Linked DNA regions of Homo sapiens: region 2 is linked to region 1. Evidence: fine-mapped expression QTL. Tissue or cell type: whole blood. Region 1 holds a variant in brackets; the other region holds the start of a gene. All regions are shown on one strand. Distances are from middle to middle.

The links. PIP is the estimated chance that this variant, and not a neighbour inherited with it, causes the effect.
Region 2: it holds the start of WDR6, and the variant in region 1 is fine-mapped to the expression of WDR6 in whole blood (INTERVAL, PIP above 0.99).

The regions. Positions count from the first base shown.
Region 1 is chr3:48,302,411-48,310,514 of GRCh38, reverse strand. It overlaps SPINK8 (serine peptidase inhibitor Kazal type 8 (putative)), which reads left to right. Exons shown (of 8, transcript NM_001080525.3): 7 at 569-611; 8 at 3,512-3,673. The coding sequence ends at 3,523. Among named protein-coding and RNA genes, the nearest start is that of NME6, 5.1 kb to the right of the region's middle. The variant C/T (reference allele first, on the strand shown) is at 3,774.
Region 2 is chr3:49,003,431-49,011,520 of GRCh38, reverse strand. WDR6 (WD repeat domain 6) reads right to left here and starts at 4,130. Exons shown (of 6, transcript NM_018031.6): 1 at 3,990-4,130. The coding sequence starts at 4,089. It overlaps P4HTM (prolyl 4-hydroxylase, transmembrane), which reads right to left. Exons shown (of 9, transcript NM_177939.3): 5 at 7,261-7,423; 6 at 6,475-6,660; 7 at 5,654-5,744; 8 at 5,334-5,457; 9 at 4,368-4,834. The coding sequence ends at 4,614. RefSeq lists silencers at 3,456-3,635, 4,176-4,225 and an enhancer at 4,364-5,352.

The sequences.
Region 1 (8,104 bases):
AAAAAAAAAAAAAAAAAATTTTTTTTTTGGTAGAATTCAGTACTAAAGCCATCTGGTGTTTGTCGGGACATTTTTTATTACTGATTCAGTATCTTTACTTGTCATAGGTCTGTTGAGACTTTTTATTTCTTATTAAGTTTTGATAATTTGTGTGTTTCTAGGAATTTGTTCATTTCATCCAGAATATCTAATCTATTGACATACAATTGTTCATAGTATTCTCTTTTAATCCTTTGTTTCTGTAAGGTCAGTAGCGATGTTTCAGCTTTCATTAAATGCATATTTTAACTTTAAGACACATTCTTTTTCTAATCCTCTGTATTTCTACTTGAATTTTCAAAGGCTATTTTGAATTTCTGTATTTTATTGTAGACTGAGTATGTTTTCTATACTCAATGTCTTTGACAAATAAAAATTCATATAGTAGAATTTTTAAATATTTGCCAAGAATTCATTATTAGCAGAATGTTTATTTCCCAAACTTAGCCAAAGATTATCAAGTAAAATTTAGTCAGAATTTATGATATACCATACAGCAAAAATAATTTTAAAATATAATTTCTTTCAGATTTGAAGGGCTTAACATAACTAAACTGTATGATGGACAATGTGTAAGTAAAGACACTTTTATTTTTTATTTTTAGAAGTAAACTAGATAAGTTAAGAGCTCACTGTTTTAGAGGGTTTTAAATGTTTTGTTATGAACATTTTCAAACATACATAAAAGTAGAGCCAATAATAGATCCCATAAGCCTATCATGTGTATTCAATAAATTGTAATGTTTTGCCACATTTCCTCCCTCTATTCTTTTATTTCTCTGTTTTCTTTGATGAAGTATATTAAAACAGGTCTCAGACATCATGTTATTCACTCCTACATACTTCAGAGTTCCTCTCTAATAAGTTTGGACATTTCCTTACATACTCAGAAGGTCTTATTACAACTAATTATTTCATTGTCATCTTCTAATACATACTTCATATTCAAATCTCCCCAACCAAAAATAACACCTTCTGGAGGAAGAAACATAATTTGGCCTGATAATTCAGCTTAAAGAACATCTATTTCACCCTTGCTCTTCCCTGTCATTTCCAATATCTAGGATATTAATGAAAGACACTAATTGAAATGTGAACAGTTATTCTGAGAGTGAATGGGCCAGGACTTGCCGGAGCCCTAGGTCTAGAGATTGTGTCCCTGACTTCCAGGTTATAGTCCAAAGCAAGAACTCAGCTGAAGCCATAGAGATCATTATTGCATTATGAGGCGTGGCAACAAGACTGGGAGAAATCAATGTAGAAGAGAAAATAAAGACAGTAGGAGGTAAAGCAGGTAAAACAGGACAATTGTATAATTTAGTAATAATTTTATGACAATGTCTTCTGACACCATCTCCATGACAAACTCACAGGGCTCATCTGATTTACAGACCAGCACACATATTACTCACTTAGGGACGGTCAATTACCTGAATGTTCTCTAGTTCCACTAAAGAGAAATCACAAGAACTTTTAGACACTTTCATGATTTGGGGTAACTATGAAAAGATCTCACATAATTTCTACTTCTGTCAGATTCTTGCTGAGCTGGGCTTACTCATTAAAAATCCTGCTAAATCCCTCCTTTTATATCTGGACCGTACCTCAGTCTATGACTCTTGTCAAATAAATCTCTGGTCTTATATCCATTTTAAACTTTTAACTTCAAAGGGGTGGTTTTAAATTTAAGGATATCTATAGAATGGTGTTCAAAGTGTTCTAAGAATCACTTATGTGCCAAAGTAAAGACTAATATTTAACAGGGGAGAAGAGTTTTAGGGACATGCAGAAAGAGGGATTGGTAAGGAAGATATCACATCAGTATAAAATGATAGAATTTTCCCTAAATCAGAGCGATCCAGAAAAGAATTGTGCGGCATCCAAATACAGTGAGCTTCCTTTCATCACATTTGGACTAGAAAATCCCAAATCTTCTAGGGGAGATCCCTGTATCATGTTGGGACCTCAACAGTCTATTTAAGACAAAAATGCATTTTATTCATTTATTTCAAATGTAAACATTAATTGTGCCATGGATGAAAAGTTAACTATAGGAGACCACCTGAAAATTTTACTGCAGAGCACAATTCTGTCTCTCTACCAAGGCTCTGATGAAATTGTTGATATAATTAATATTGCTTTTATAAAGTAATTCAGAAAGCTTGGATGCCAAGGATTTGCAGAGATTAAGAATGCAGACTGGGCCAGGCACGGTGGCTCATGCCTGTAATCCCAGCACTTTGGGAGGCCAAGGCAGGCGGATCACAAGGTCAGGAGATCGAGACCATCCTGGCTAACACGGTGAAACCCATCTCTACTAAAAATACAAAAAAAATTAGCCAGTCTTGGTGGCGGGCGCCTGTAGTCCCAGCTACTTGGGAGGCTGAGGCAGGTGAATGGCATGAACCCGGGAGGTGGAGCTTGCAGTAAGCCAAGATCACGCCACTGCACTCCAGCCTGGGCGCCAGAGTGAGACTCCGTCTCAAAAAAAAAAAAAAAAAAAAAAAAAAAAAAGAATGCAGACTGAAGTCAGAATTCATTGCACAAACTCAGTGATCTAGAGCTAGTACCACTGACAGCTTTAGTTATTCTTATGTATAGGTAGTAAGCCCAGGTATCCCAAGTACAGAATGTGATGTCTGGGGAAGAGCGTTGAAGAAAAAGTCACAAATCTTTCAGTTAATACCTCTGTGACTCAGCTAGAACTCATCTGTCTGGGTTATCATGAAACTCAAATGAGATGTACACTTGAATGAACTCAAATGAGATATAGGCTTAATAAAGATATGTACTCATATATATGAGTATATAATTGCATTAAGAGCCAACCATAATGATGAACTACAATGAGCTATTGGCACCTTCCCCTAAATCAGTCCTTAGAGAATCAATTGGAGTTTGAGGAAACTAATAATTCCAGAAGAGGTGGGGGGGTGGGGGGCAGATAGGGAGGGAGAGAGAGAGAGTAGGAAGAGAAAGAAGAAAAGAAGACATGAAAATGGAGAAAGAAGAGGGATAGGGAGGAAGAGGAAGTGGAAGAAGGAAGGGAGGAAAGGAAGGAAGGAAAGAAGGAAGGAAGGAAGGGGAAAGAGAAGGGAAAGGAAAGGGAAAAGAGGGGAAGGGGAAACCTGAGACACTCTTAGGGAGATGGAAAGCTCCATATCCTCCAACAGGCCTCTGCCAGGACCCTGCTTCATGTCAACTCCACTGCCTCTATCCCCTCAGGAGTTCCCAGAGGCTCTCCTGGAGTCCAAAGTCTCACCCAGACATCCCCATCCTTTGCCTCTTTTCCACCGACTTTCACTCTGCTTTTTCCTTCTCCAGTGAAATTAGAATGTCTCTAACCTGCCTTAATTCAGAGAATAATTGTTTAGCATTTCCCCTGCTGAACTATGGTTGTGTTTACCAGTGTGGTGGCTTTTCTCTTAACTTCCTCAAATTTGATTTCTCTAAGCAGATACTTCTCTTGCAGGAAAACTCTTGAACGTACGACAAAGAATTATAAAACCTACTGAATCTCCAGATTGCCAAGTGAAACACAATGGTTGCCTCTTCAAATATATCCCCTTTAATTACTAATGGTTGGATCAAACTCGTTGATTTATGTCTTCAATAAATGATTCTTAGCAGAAAACCTGGCTGGCAAACATTTCTCTTGATTAATAAGAATCTTTAAAAAATATCAGATATTCTATTTTCTCATCCCCAAACTACTTGACTCATGCCATGGGTTC[C/T]CTCTGTTCTTACACAGATTGTAAGCAAATGACCACAAAAATCTAAAATCTTAGTAAGAAAAGCAAGCTTTCTGGTGTTTTTAACTTGCCCTGTACCCATTCTCCCTACCCCAACTCTGCTGTAGGCTTAAATTAAACCAGCCTTGAAATCATGGTGGAAACCAGCCTGCGAAAAGACATTCAAAGGGGAAGAACAGGTTTGGAGGTCCCCAAAAACACCATTTCCAGAAAATGATCGTTATTTGATTTGCCTGGCAGTTCCCTAGAGACCTCCTCCAGCTGGGTTGCTTTTTGGCTTTTTGTTTTGTTTTTTGTTTTGTTTTAACCTGACTGAGAGTTCTCTCACTGAGAACTTTTTCCCTGGGGCATCTGTCAAAAACAAACAGCCTCAATTTTTAAAATTTGCAACAACCTTAAGCAGTGATAACATTTGGGACAAACAAATAACAACAACAAAAAAAAAGTAAAAGAAAAAGCTGAGAATAGAATGTCCATGGAGCTTTTGAAAAGCTCTGGCATATTTCTAGGAATCTAGAAGACCAAGAGCATGAGCAGGTCTGTAATATGTCCAGGAGAATCTTTAGAAGGCCCTATGTGCTCACCTTGGCTGACTTTAATGCTCTAAATAGCAAGAAATGAAGTCTAAAGCAGAGTTGTAAACTGCCTGCCTGACCATTGAAGGCATGGCTCAATACATACAGAATACCTCGGCAAAGGCAGAAAGACTTATTGGTTCCAAGTATTTAAAAACACTATGTCCAATCATTAGATGACCACTAAACTAATGGAACAGAGTCTTCAATGGTTACACACTACCAAGAATACATACTTTAAAAAATTAATTGATAAAAATCACTACACAAATGAATAGCAACAACAAACCTGGGGGAAGGGGAGAATCTGATTTCCAAAGTTGCCACATTATGTTGTTTAAAACATCCAATTTTCAATGAAATATTGTGACACATACAAAGAAACAAGAAAGTCTGGCCCATACACAAGAAAAAAAGATCAGTCAATAGGAATTGTTGCCAAGAAAGCTCCAATGTTGGACTTACTAGACAAAGACTTTAAATCAGCCCAGGCAGGTGACTCATGGCTATAATCCCAACACTTTGGGGGCCTGAGGTGAAAGGATCACTTGAGGCCAGGAATTCAAGACCAGCCTGGACAACATAGTTGTCCTATCTCTACAAAAAAATTAAAAATTATCAGGCATGCTGGCACGTGCCTGTAGTCCTAGCTACTTGGGAAGCTGAGGTGGGAGGATTGATTGCTTGAGCCCAGGAGGTTTAGGCTACAATGAGCTATGATTGTGCCACTGCATTCTAGCCTGGGTAACAGCGAGGCCTTATTAAAAAAAAATACACATACATACATGTATACATATTTTTTCAAAGAGATAAACTATGTCTAAAGAAATAAAGTATAAGAATGATGTGTGAACAAGTAGAGAACATCATAAAGAAATTATTTTTTTAAATATAACTTTCTTGAGGTGATAAGTACAATAACTAAAGTGACAAATTCACTAGAGAGGCTCAATAGCAAAGTTGAACAGGTAGAAGAAAGAACAAGTGAACTTGAAGAAAGATTGACATTAACCAGTGCGAGGAGCAGAAAGAAAAAGGAACAGAGCCCTGGAAGCCTTTGGGATATAATTAAGCATAACAACATAAAGATAATGGTAGTCCAGGAAGGAGAAGGAAGAAAGAAAAGGGCAGAAAGATATTTGAAGAAATAATGACTGAAAATATCTCAAATTTTTCAAAGAATGTTAACATATGCATCCAAGCAACTCAGCAAACTCCAAGTAGGACAAACTCAAAGAAATCCACACCTATACACATCATAATCTCTGTCAAAAGCCAAAGACCAAGAGAGAATTTTGAAAGCAGCAAAAGAGAAGCAAATCATTAAGTACAGATGACCCTCAGTAAGATTAACATCTAGTTTCTCGTCAGAAATCATGGAGGCCAGAAAGCAGTAGGATAACATATTCAAAGTGCTAACAGAAAAAAAACATCAGCCAAGAATTCTATATCCATAAAGAAAATCCTTCAGAAATGAAGAAGAGTGGTGACTCACTCCTGTAATCCCAGCACTTAGGGAGGCTGAGGCGGGTGGATCATCTGAGGTCAGAAGTTCAAGACCAGCCTGGCCAACACAGTGAAACCCTCTCTACTAAATATAATTACAAAATTAGCTGAGTGTGGTGTTGCATGCCTGTAATCCCAGCTGCTTGGGAGGCTGAGGCAGGAGAATTGCTTGAACCTAGGACGCAGAGGTTGCAGTGAGCCAAGATTGCACCATTGCACTCCAGTGTGGGCAACAAGAGCAAAACTCCATCTCAAAAAAAAAAAAAAAGAAAAAAAGAAAAGAAAAGAAAAAAAAAGAAATGAAGGAGAAAGTAAGATGACCAACAAAACTAATAAAAACCGAAATAATTTGTCTCCAGCAGATCCACCCTGCAGGAAATACTAAAGGGAATACTTTAGGCTGAAGCGAAAGGACACTTAAATCCACAAGGGGAAATAAAGAGAACTGGTAGAGGTAACTACACAGTTAAAGACAGTATAAATATATGGTTTTGTTTGTAAATCTTTTATTCTCCTATATGATTTAAAAGACAATTGCATAAAGCAATAGTTAATAATAAATAATAACAGCCAGGCGCAGTGGCTCATGCCTGTAATTCCAGCACTTTGGGAGGCCGAGGCGGGCGATCCATCGCCTGAGGTCAGGAGTTCAAGACCAGCCTGGCCAGCATGGTGAAACCCCATCTCTACTGAAAATACAAAAATCAGCCAGGCGTGGTGGCAGGTGCCTGTAATCCCAGCTACTTAGGAGGCTGAAGCAGGAGAATCGCTTGAACCCGGGAGGCAGAGGTTGCAGTGAGCCAAGATCACGCCATTGCACTCCAGCCTGGGCAACAGAGCGAGACTCTGTCTCAAAATAATAATAATAAATAATAATAACAAATTATACGCTTGATGATGTGTCACAGGTTTCTGAGGCTCTGTTCCTCTTTTTCTAACTTGTTGAGATGGAGGCTTACTGAATTTCCAGTCTTTCTTCTTTTCTAATATATGTATTTTAGGCTACAAATTTCCATCTAAGCAAGGCTTTAGCAGTATCAATTTTTAAAAAATTGTATCTAAGTACAGTATACATACAGAATTCACATAAGCGTAGCATTGAATGAGGCACCTGGTCAGTACTGTTTCTAAGTGTTTAGTAAATGTTTTTTATTACTACTGTGAATTGTCCTTTGCCTCTTATGCCATAGCATCCTGGCAATGGGGAGGGGTTTGAGGGTGGGATGGTGAAGAGATTCTGGGATTCCATTTTATTGGAGCATTTTTTTCCCCTTGCTTCTCATAAGGTGTCTGTCGGGGAGAGATCTGTGTCACTTATTGCAGTTTGTTGCATGCTGGAATGCTGCAGATTCTGGAATGCCATCTGTATCAGTTGTCTGGAATTTGGTTTCACATAAGGTTCTTGTCTTCTGTTTAACTGGTTTGCTGGGACTTCTGAAGTCCTGATGATCATACTGGGAAGGCAGACTCAGGGGTGGCGATGCTGGCTGTGGCCCTCATCTGCTGGGCCATGGTGGTTATTGTGTTGCTTCTTTTGCTGTGTCCTAGAACAGGGGCTTTACTGAGCCACCCATGTCCTCTGAGAGCTTTGCAACTTACAAGGACTGTTCTCTTCCTTCAGGGGCTGGGATGACTTGCTGATTTAAGCCCCTTTGTTGAGATACAGAGGTATTGTCATAATGACTGGGACTTGTGTTGCTCATCTTTGAGGAAGATTTGTTTAGGCTTGCTGTTATCCACCATATCTTTTATTTAGAGTAGTTTGCTGGCTAACTCACTGGGTCCTTTGGCCTACTGCAGATTCAGTTGCTACAACTCCGTCAGTGATTCCGTGTAGGGAGAAGTAATGGGTTGTCATTTTTGGAGTCAGGGTTGGGGGCCTGGGGTTTGAGAATCAGGTCAGAATTCATGGGTTGAGGTTTAGGGATTTGAGGTTGGGATTAGGAGGTTAGAAGATAAGCATCAAGGGCTCAGGATCTAGAGACCAGGTCTAGGATTAAAGGATTATAAATTTAGGGACTAGGGCTTGGGTTAGGATTGGAACTGAGTAGCAGAGGAGTTAAGATTAGAATAGGGGGTGGTGGTCAAGGGTCTAAACAAAAAGAGAAGAGATGCAAGGGTCTGCGGAGAGACTGGAAAAACTTTCCTCGTAAGTTCCCAAAGGTGACTGGGTATCAGGAAACTATTGGGAAGTGGCTTCTTATTGCTGCAGGGACAGAAGCCATGAGTTGG
Region 2 (8,090 bases), 700 kb before region 1:
ACACAATCCTGCAGCTTGAATCTTAGAAAATCCTTGGTCTCGGCCGGGTGCGGTGGCTCACGCCTGTAATCTGGGCACTTTGGAAAGCCAAAGCCAGACTCTGTCTCAAAAGAAAAAAAAAAAAAAGAAAATCCTTGGTCTCGGCCAGGCACGGTGGCTCACGCCTGTAATCCTAGCACTTTGGGAAGCCCAGGCGGATGAATCACCTGAGGTCAGGGGTTCAGGACTAGCCTGGCCAACAAGGTGAAAACCCCATCTCTACTAAAAAATTAGCCAGGTGTGGTGGCACGTGCCTGTAATCCCAGCTACTCAGGAGGCTGAGGCAGGAGAATCGCTTGAACCCAGCGGGTGGAGGTTGCAGTGAGCCAAGATCATACCACTTCACTCCAGCCTGGGCGAAAGACTCAAAAAAAAAAAAAGAAAAAAGAAAATCCTTGGTCTCAGCTTCAGCTGGACTTTCAGTGCTGACTTTGTGCTTCCCTCATCAGTCATTCTTTTTTTTTTTGAGACAGAGTCTCATTCTGTCGCTGAGGCTGGAGTGCAGTGGCACCGTGCAGCTCACTGCAACCTCCATCTCCTGGGTTCAAGCAACTCTCCTGCCTCAGCCTCCCAAGTAGCTGGAATTACAGGCGCCCACCACCACACCTGGCTAGTTTTTTTTTTTTTTTTTTGAGACGGAGTCTTGCTCTGTAGCCCAGGCTGGAGTGCAGTGGCACGATCTCAGCTCACTGCAAGTTCCACCTCCCGGGTTCAGGCCATTCTCCTGCCTCAGCCTCCCGAGTAGCTGGGACTACAGGGGCCTGCCCCCATGCCCGGCTAATTTTTTGTATTTTTAATAGAGACAGGGTTTCACCGTGTTAGCCAGGATGATCTCGATCTCCTGACCTCGTGATCTGCCCGCCTCAGCCTCCCAAAGTGCTGGGATTATAGGCGTGAGCCACCAAGCCCGACCAGTTTTTATATTTTTAGTAGAGACAGGGTTTCACCATGTTGGCCACGCTGGTCTCGAACTCCTGACCTGCGGTGATCCACCCACCTTGGCCTCCCAAAGTGCCGGGATTACAGGCGTGAGCCATTGTGCCCGGCCCCCTCATCAGTCACTCTTTTTTTTTTTTGAGACAAAGTCTCACTCTGCCGCCCAAGCTGGAGTGCTGTGGCGCGATCTTGGCTCACTACAAGCTCTGCCTCCCAGGTTTACGCCATCCTCCTGCCTCAGCCTCCCAAGTAGCTGGGACTACAGGCATCCGCCACCATGCCCGGCTAATTTTTTGTATTTTTAGTAGAGACGGGGTTTCACTGTGTTAGCCAGGATGGTCTCGATCTCCTGACCTCATGATCCGCCCACCTCGGCCTCCCAAAGTGCTGGGAATACAGGCGTGAGCCACCGCGCCCAGCCTCATCAGTCACGCTTGATGTTCACTTCAACCACAAATTTCTCAAACTCAGAGCCTCCTCCTCACCTCACTTTTTTTTTTTAATTAAAAAAAAAATAGAGATGGGGCCTGGCACAGTGGCTCACACCGATAATCCCAGCACTTTGGAAGGCAGGAGGCTCGCTTAAGCCCAGGAGTTTGAGACCAGCCTGGGCAACAGGGCAAAACTCCACCTCTAAAAAAATTATACAAATGAGCTGGGCATAATGGCGCATGCCTGTAGTCCCAGCTACTTGGGAGGCTGAGGTGAGAGGATCTCTTGAGCCCAAGAGGTGGAAGTTGCAGTGACCTGAGATTGCACCACTGCACTCCACCCTGAGCAATAGAGCAAGACTCTGTCTCAAAAAAAAAAAAAGTAAAATAAAATGAGAAGGATTTTGACAATGCAAAAAGAAAATAAAAGATGTAAAATGAGAAAGTCTAATCCAGTGGTTCTCCACAGGGGGCAACTTTCCCCACAGGAGACATCTAGCAATAGCTGGAGACACGTACGGCTGTCTCCAGGGGTTGTGCTACTGGCAAGTAAGGCCAGGGATGATGCTAAACATCCTACAATGCACAAACAGCATTCCAACAAAGAATTATCTGGTCTAAAAGGTCAATCGAGGCAAGATTGAGAAAACCCTGGTCTAATCTAACAAGACTGGGTGAGTGTAAGGGGAGGCCAACTTGAGGACACAATATTTAGAGTTAGGATTCAAGGATAAGCAGCAGTTAGCCAGAGGAAAGGAGGCGGAAGAGGGGGACTGGGAAATGTTGGGGCGGGGGGGGGGGGGTGGGGAGCAATGGGAGGGTTTGCAGCTTTCTTGGTGGAGAAAACAGCATGTATGATTGCCCTGAGATGGGCAAGAGCATTGAGTATGGTGGATGGAACAGGAAATGAAGAGCTCAGGAAGAGGCTAGAGAGGCCGGGTATGGTGGCTCATGCCTATAATTCCAGCAATTTGGGGGGCTGAGGCAGGCGAATCACTTGAGGTCAGGAGTTTGAGACCAGCCTGGCCAACATGGTGAGGCCCCATCTCTACTAAAAATACAACAATTAGCTGGGCATGGTGGTGGGCACCTGTAATCCCAGCTACTCCGGAGGCTGAGGCAGGAGAATCACTTGAACCTGGGAGGCGGAGGTTGCAGGGAGCCGAGACCGTGCCACTGCACTCCAGCCTGGGTGACAGAGGAAGACTGTCTCAAAAACAAACAAACAAACAAACAAAAAACACACACACACAGAATTGTAGCTATATAAAAGTCACTTTGGAAGCCACAGAAGTAGGTGAATTCACTTGCAGAGCTTCTTAAACTGCATTTCCCAAGTTATTCCCCACCTTAAAACCCTTCAATAGGTTCTCCCCACTGCCCTTAGGGATAAAGTCAGATCAAGGCCTGAAACAATGTGGCCTCTGCTCGCTTGTCCAGCTTCCTTTCCTCCCAGACTCCATTCCTGCTCTAACTTCACAAGAATTCCCTCCTTCCCCCAAAATGACAGATTCTTCCAGCCTCAAGGCCTTTGGCATGCTTACCCTCTTGCCAGGAACTCACCCCTTTTCCTAGTTCACTCTTGTGGTTCTTTGAGTTTCTGCTTCGTTGTTCCCCCTCAAGGAGCCTTAGGAGTTTAGCTCGCGGTAGGAACTCCGCGCTCCAAGAACCCCCACACCAGATCAAAACTGGATCATCCCCACCCCATACACACACCCTCTTAGGACTGGTGGCAACTCACTCAAGGCCTGACCGCCAAGGCCCTGCCTCAGGACCCTTATACAACTCAGCAGCACCAACATGGGTCATTAGTGGCTTCATGTAATGACTGTTCGAGACCAGCCTGGACTCTGACACCTCAGGTCCCAGGCCTCGCCTGTCCTTTGCGACCCGGTTCTCCTTGGAGGGACCTCCACACCTGATTTCCTGGACCTCAACCATCTCAGGAGGGGGTCTCAGCCCCTGCTTCCCCGGGCACCGCCCCCTACTCGGAAAGGTCTTATCCGCCGTTTTCCGCGACGCCACCCTCCTCAGAGGATCTTCACCCCCACCTTAGGGGGAAGAGACTCATCCCGCCCTCGAGAGGCCACACCCTTGCCCTCTCCCGGCCCCGCCTTCCCCAAGAGGCCACACCCCCTGAGGGGCCGGGGCCGCCTCCGCCTCCTCCTCCTCCTCCTCCCTCCGCCCCCCCCAGCTCGGCCCCGTCTCCTTCGGAGAGGCCAAGCCCCCGCCCATCTCCTAGAAGGGAGCACACCCCCTCAACCCTCAGCTCCCGGGCCTCCGCCTCCGCCTCCGCGCGGCCGCGTTCCCCTGCACCCTCCCGCGGTTCCACCCGCCCTTTCCACGCGGGCTGAAGTTTATGAAGCGCCGCGGCGGCCACATCAGCTTTGTCTCTCGGGCCCCGCCCTCTTCAGGTTGGCCCTCGTCCCCGCCATCTCCGGGGCTCCCTTCCCACCTCCGATCGGCCTCAACCTGCTGCCCGTCCTTCTCCTCAGGGCACCCCTTTTGTCCCTGTGGCACCGCCCCTGGGAGGCGCTGTTTCTTTCCCCCTTTCCACCAGGCGTGCCTCAAGCCAAGCCTCACCCGCCAACAGCCGGTCCCCCACGCACTCCAGACCCGTCACTGGGAGGAGTATAAGCTCCGAGGTTGCCCGCGGCCAAACGTAGTCCTCGAGAGCGTCCATGTCGATCCTCGAGGTGCTGAGGCAGCCACGGCTAAGAAGGGAGCTGAACTCTCGCGAGAACGAGCCTTCCCAGCGCGCCGCGCTGCCCATCAACAGCGCCCTCAGCTACAGGTAGCAGAGACCAGGGCGCCCGCGGCGGTTGTCCAATGACGACCCTTCGTCCCACGCAATCCAGCTCATCATTGGCGGGGCCCGCGGAGGGGCATCCCGCCCCTCGCCCCCTCACGTGACGCTTGCGGGGCGCTCCCAGCTGCCAGCCCGCTGCACCTATCGCGGACTCTGTTTCGCCGACCCGGAGTTTGTCGGGCCCGGCGGCTCGAACCTTGTGGTTTTTTATTTGACGGGGCAGATGGAGTCAGTACACAATAAATAACATGAATATAGGAACTGCGCCGTATCGCGGCTGGCGGGGTGGGGCAAGACATTGGCCAGACCTTTAGTCTGCAGCAGGACAGAAGGACAGCCGGACCCCTGATCTTGGGCAACTGGCGACCCGCGGCTGGGAACCGGGGCTAACTCTTCCCTCAGAGTTCCACGCGCGCATCGCGGTAGGCCCGGTCCAGAGCCCACTCGGGCTGTGAGTCGGTGCCCCCTTCTCGGGCAAGGCGGGCCATCTCCTGTTGGAACAGCGCTTGCCGCGCTCGGCTGGGGTCCACATTAATCCAGTTGTTGGCAATCCACTTGGTGCCGCGCGTGACCAGGCAGCCCCCGTGCAGCGAGTAGTCGTCTACGTCACCCACCCAACCTAGAAGAGGAGGGTGACGTGAGATCCTAGGCTGGGCTGGCCAGAGCTTGGCCTCATAGGCACCAAGAGCATGACCAAGGTGGGTCCAGCTATGCATTCCTTGTGTAGCAAACACCCAGACCTAAAGCTTCCTTGGAGGCTCCTCATCTCAGCCCACTAATGTATAGTCAACACTACTGGCCCTCTGAAACCAGCTTTCTTGCTGTTGGGCCTGTCCATATCCCTTCCCATCCTGGGTTAGCAAGGGACATGTGTCCCAAGCCCCAGGGAGTAGGAAGGCTGGGGCATCAGGGAATGATAGGGATGGATATAACCCAATAAGCAGTACAGGTCCTGGGGCAGTCTGCTAAAGTCACTAAGGATGGCCTTTGGGAGGCACCAGGAGCAGAAAACTATTTGGAAAGCAGCCAGAAACAGCCCTCCATTGTGGCAGACGGGGGCTGGGTAAAGGGAAGCTGTACTCAGGGCACCCCCCCCAGGCCTGGCCATAGGCCCTCACCTTGCCCATCAGGCAGGTAGTTGTACCAGAAGACTGCTGTGCCCTGTTGGGGCTTGACACGCAGGTTTCCCTTGTCACAGTGCCTCCGTGTGTCACGGAGGTCCACGTCATCCTGAATCAGACTCTGTGGGCAGCAGGGTGGTGGGGTGTTCAACCTGTCCCCACTCTATGGCCAGGCCAGCCAAGGGTGACCAAAGGGAAACCAACCAGATATGCCCAAGGAATAATTTGGGCCCACATCCTTAGACCTGGAGAGGTGTGTACTTCACTTGTCTAAGCCCCTGCCAGCCCACAAGAGTAATAGCCCAGTTGACCCTTACCATTTCATCGTAGGTTCTGTTATCTGCTACAGGGAAAACAGTCTCGCCCCCACCAGTGACGTTGTTCAAATAAAACAGCACTGTCATGTAGCTGTAAGGCAGGGGGGGCACTGAGCAGGTCCCCAGTTGTGGATGCTCCCAGGGGCTTACCTGTGGGCAGGATAAGCTGCCCAGGTTCCTGTTGCCAGGGACCAGGACAGACTAGGATGGGAGACAATAGGGCAGGCCAGTGCCAAAATGTCCCTAGCCCCTCCTTCCCCGAAACCCAGTCTCTTACTGTGAGTTGCAATGGTTTTTTGGCCAAGATCACAGGTGCACTTAGTTAAATGCCATGGCCCTGAGCAAGGGCCTGGCAGGGAAAGGTAGGCTAGCAGAAGCAACAGGGCGCGCTGAAGGGCTCCTTGGGGATGGGAAGGGGCTGGGCCAGAACAGCCACCTGAAGAGGAAAGAACTGGCTTGACAGGGGAGGGAGGCACAGCTTCAGCTTCTCTAAGTGGAATCAAGATCAACACCTGGAGGAATGGGCAGGACAAGCTAGGGGCCCAGCCTTGCCCCTTGCTTCAGAACTCAGGGGGCAAGTTTTGGTGTCTGTGGGTACATCAGTCTGTGTTGACTCCAGTGGTCACGATGACCAGTAGCCACCCCTTTCCAGCCATTGGGTAAACAACTTGTGGGGAGAGGTGAGGGCATCACTAACCGGGATAACCCAGTGATCTCCTGGCCCCATGCCAAGGGGCACGCCCACAGTGCAGGGCTGTGCCTGTGTCATGGGTGTTCCTGGTCTGAGGATTGAAGGCAGCCCCCAGTTGGGAGATACTTGCCGGCAGGAGGTCTCGAAGGGTACAGACTCGTTGGCTACCAGCTTGGTATGGGAGCAGATGGTCTCTGGGTACACAGGCCCACTGTCCACGTGGGCATGGTAGTGGCCCCCCTCACCATATCGAACAACCTGCAGCGGCTCGCTGAGCTCCACGATCTCAGGCGACAGGCGAGTGAGGCGCAGCACCCTGGTGGGCAGCAGGCATTTGGCTGGGCAGCCCCAGGCAAGGTGGTGATCTGAAGGAGCTGGCCAAGGTGGACCCTAGGCCTGCCACAAGCTTTGCCCCTACCCACCTCCCCTGGAAGTCCCTTAAGCCATCTCAGACTGGCCCTGTAAGAGCAGGAGGGGGTTACTCATGATGATCCTTCTCCCTCAGATGCCAAAGACAGAGACACCTGCTATGTGGAAATGTTGACATTTCCACTAAATAAAGGGGGCGGGGAGTCCTGAGGTCCTCCTCCCTGGAAGAAAGTTGTTTATTTAAAAACCCTTTTCCTGCTGTGACGGGGTCAGATAAGGGGTCAAAGATAAGAGGTCATTTATCTAATCAGAAAGAAGTGCTCAATCTCTATCTAACCCCAGTTGCCCATTGTGTGCCTGCAAGGAGGGCTAATTTGCCTTTGTTAATTGCCTGTCTTTCAGTGGGTCCCAATCCTGGTCTAACAAATGGAACTTAATCCCAAATGGGTTAATCCATTCTGTCCTCTTGGCCCCAGACAAGGACTTCTGTGGAGGCCCTGCCCAGTCTTCTCCCCCTGCTCCAGTGAGAACAGCTTCAGGTGCTCACCTCTGGCGGATGGCACGCATGATGTGGTGGGCACCCTCACCCTGGTAGAGCCAGGTATGGTGGCTGTTCCGCACCAGCTCACTGGACTCTGCCTTGTGGCTCCTCATGTACTTGTGGAAGTCCCGAAGGTCCATGTTGGAGAACTCCTGCAGACTCAGCACTCCTGCACAGGGCACCCACCATCAATGCCCACCAAGCCCATATTGGGAGGCAACAGTGGCAGGCTGCACTTCCCTACCTACCCCAAAGGCAGCAGCAGCCCCTGACCTCAGGCACTGAGGGGCCTTGTACACTTGTCCCCCACCTGGACTTTTGGGTCAGATGAACCTGGTTTCTGTCACATCAGGCCTTACAGGAAGACCCAGAGCAGTTCCTTTTCTCAGTTTAAGCCCTAATTTGGCCCTAAGAAGAAAGAGGCCCACCCCCTATTAGAGTGGCCAGAGAAGGTTCTCCAAAGGAAGCTTGAGCCATATGGCCAGGACCCTGGCCTTCCAGCCTGGCTATATAGAGTGGTGGCCACTCTCCGGCCTGTGGAGGGTGAGGAGAGAGCAGGCAGTGCTGGGCCTCATCCAGGGCCTTACATACATACGCCAGGGTGCAAGCAGGGCCAGCCCCCGGGGAGTTCCTCATGACCCCAGGTTTCATCCTGGGTGGAACCTACTTCGCCAGCCCTGCCTACTGCGTTACCAGCCCACCTTAGCAACGAAAGTCAGGCCACCCCCTCTCATGAGAACATTCTCCACTGTCCCTGCTCAAACCATTAAGCAGGGGTTCTACCCTCTTGGGGTTCTGGAAGAGTAGTTGGTATCTTTGCTCCATGTTATTCTGGC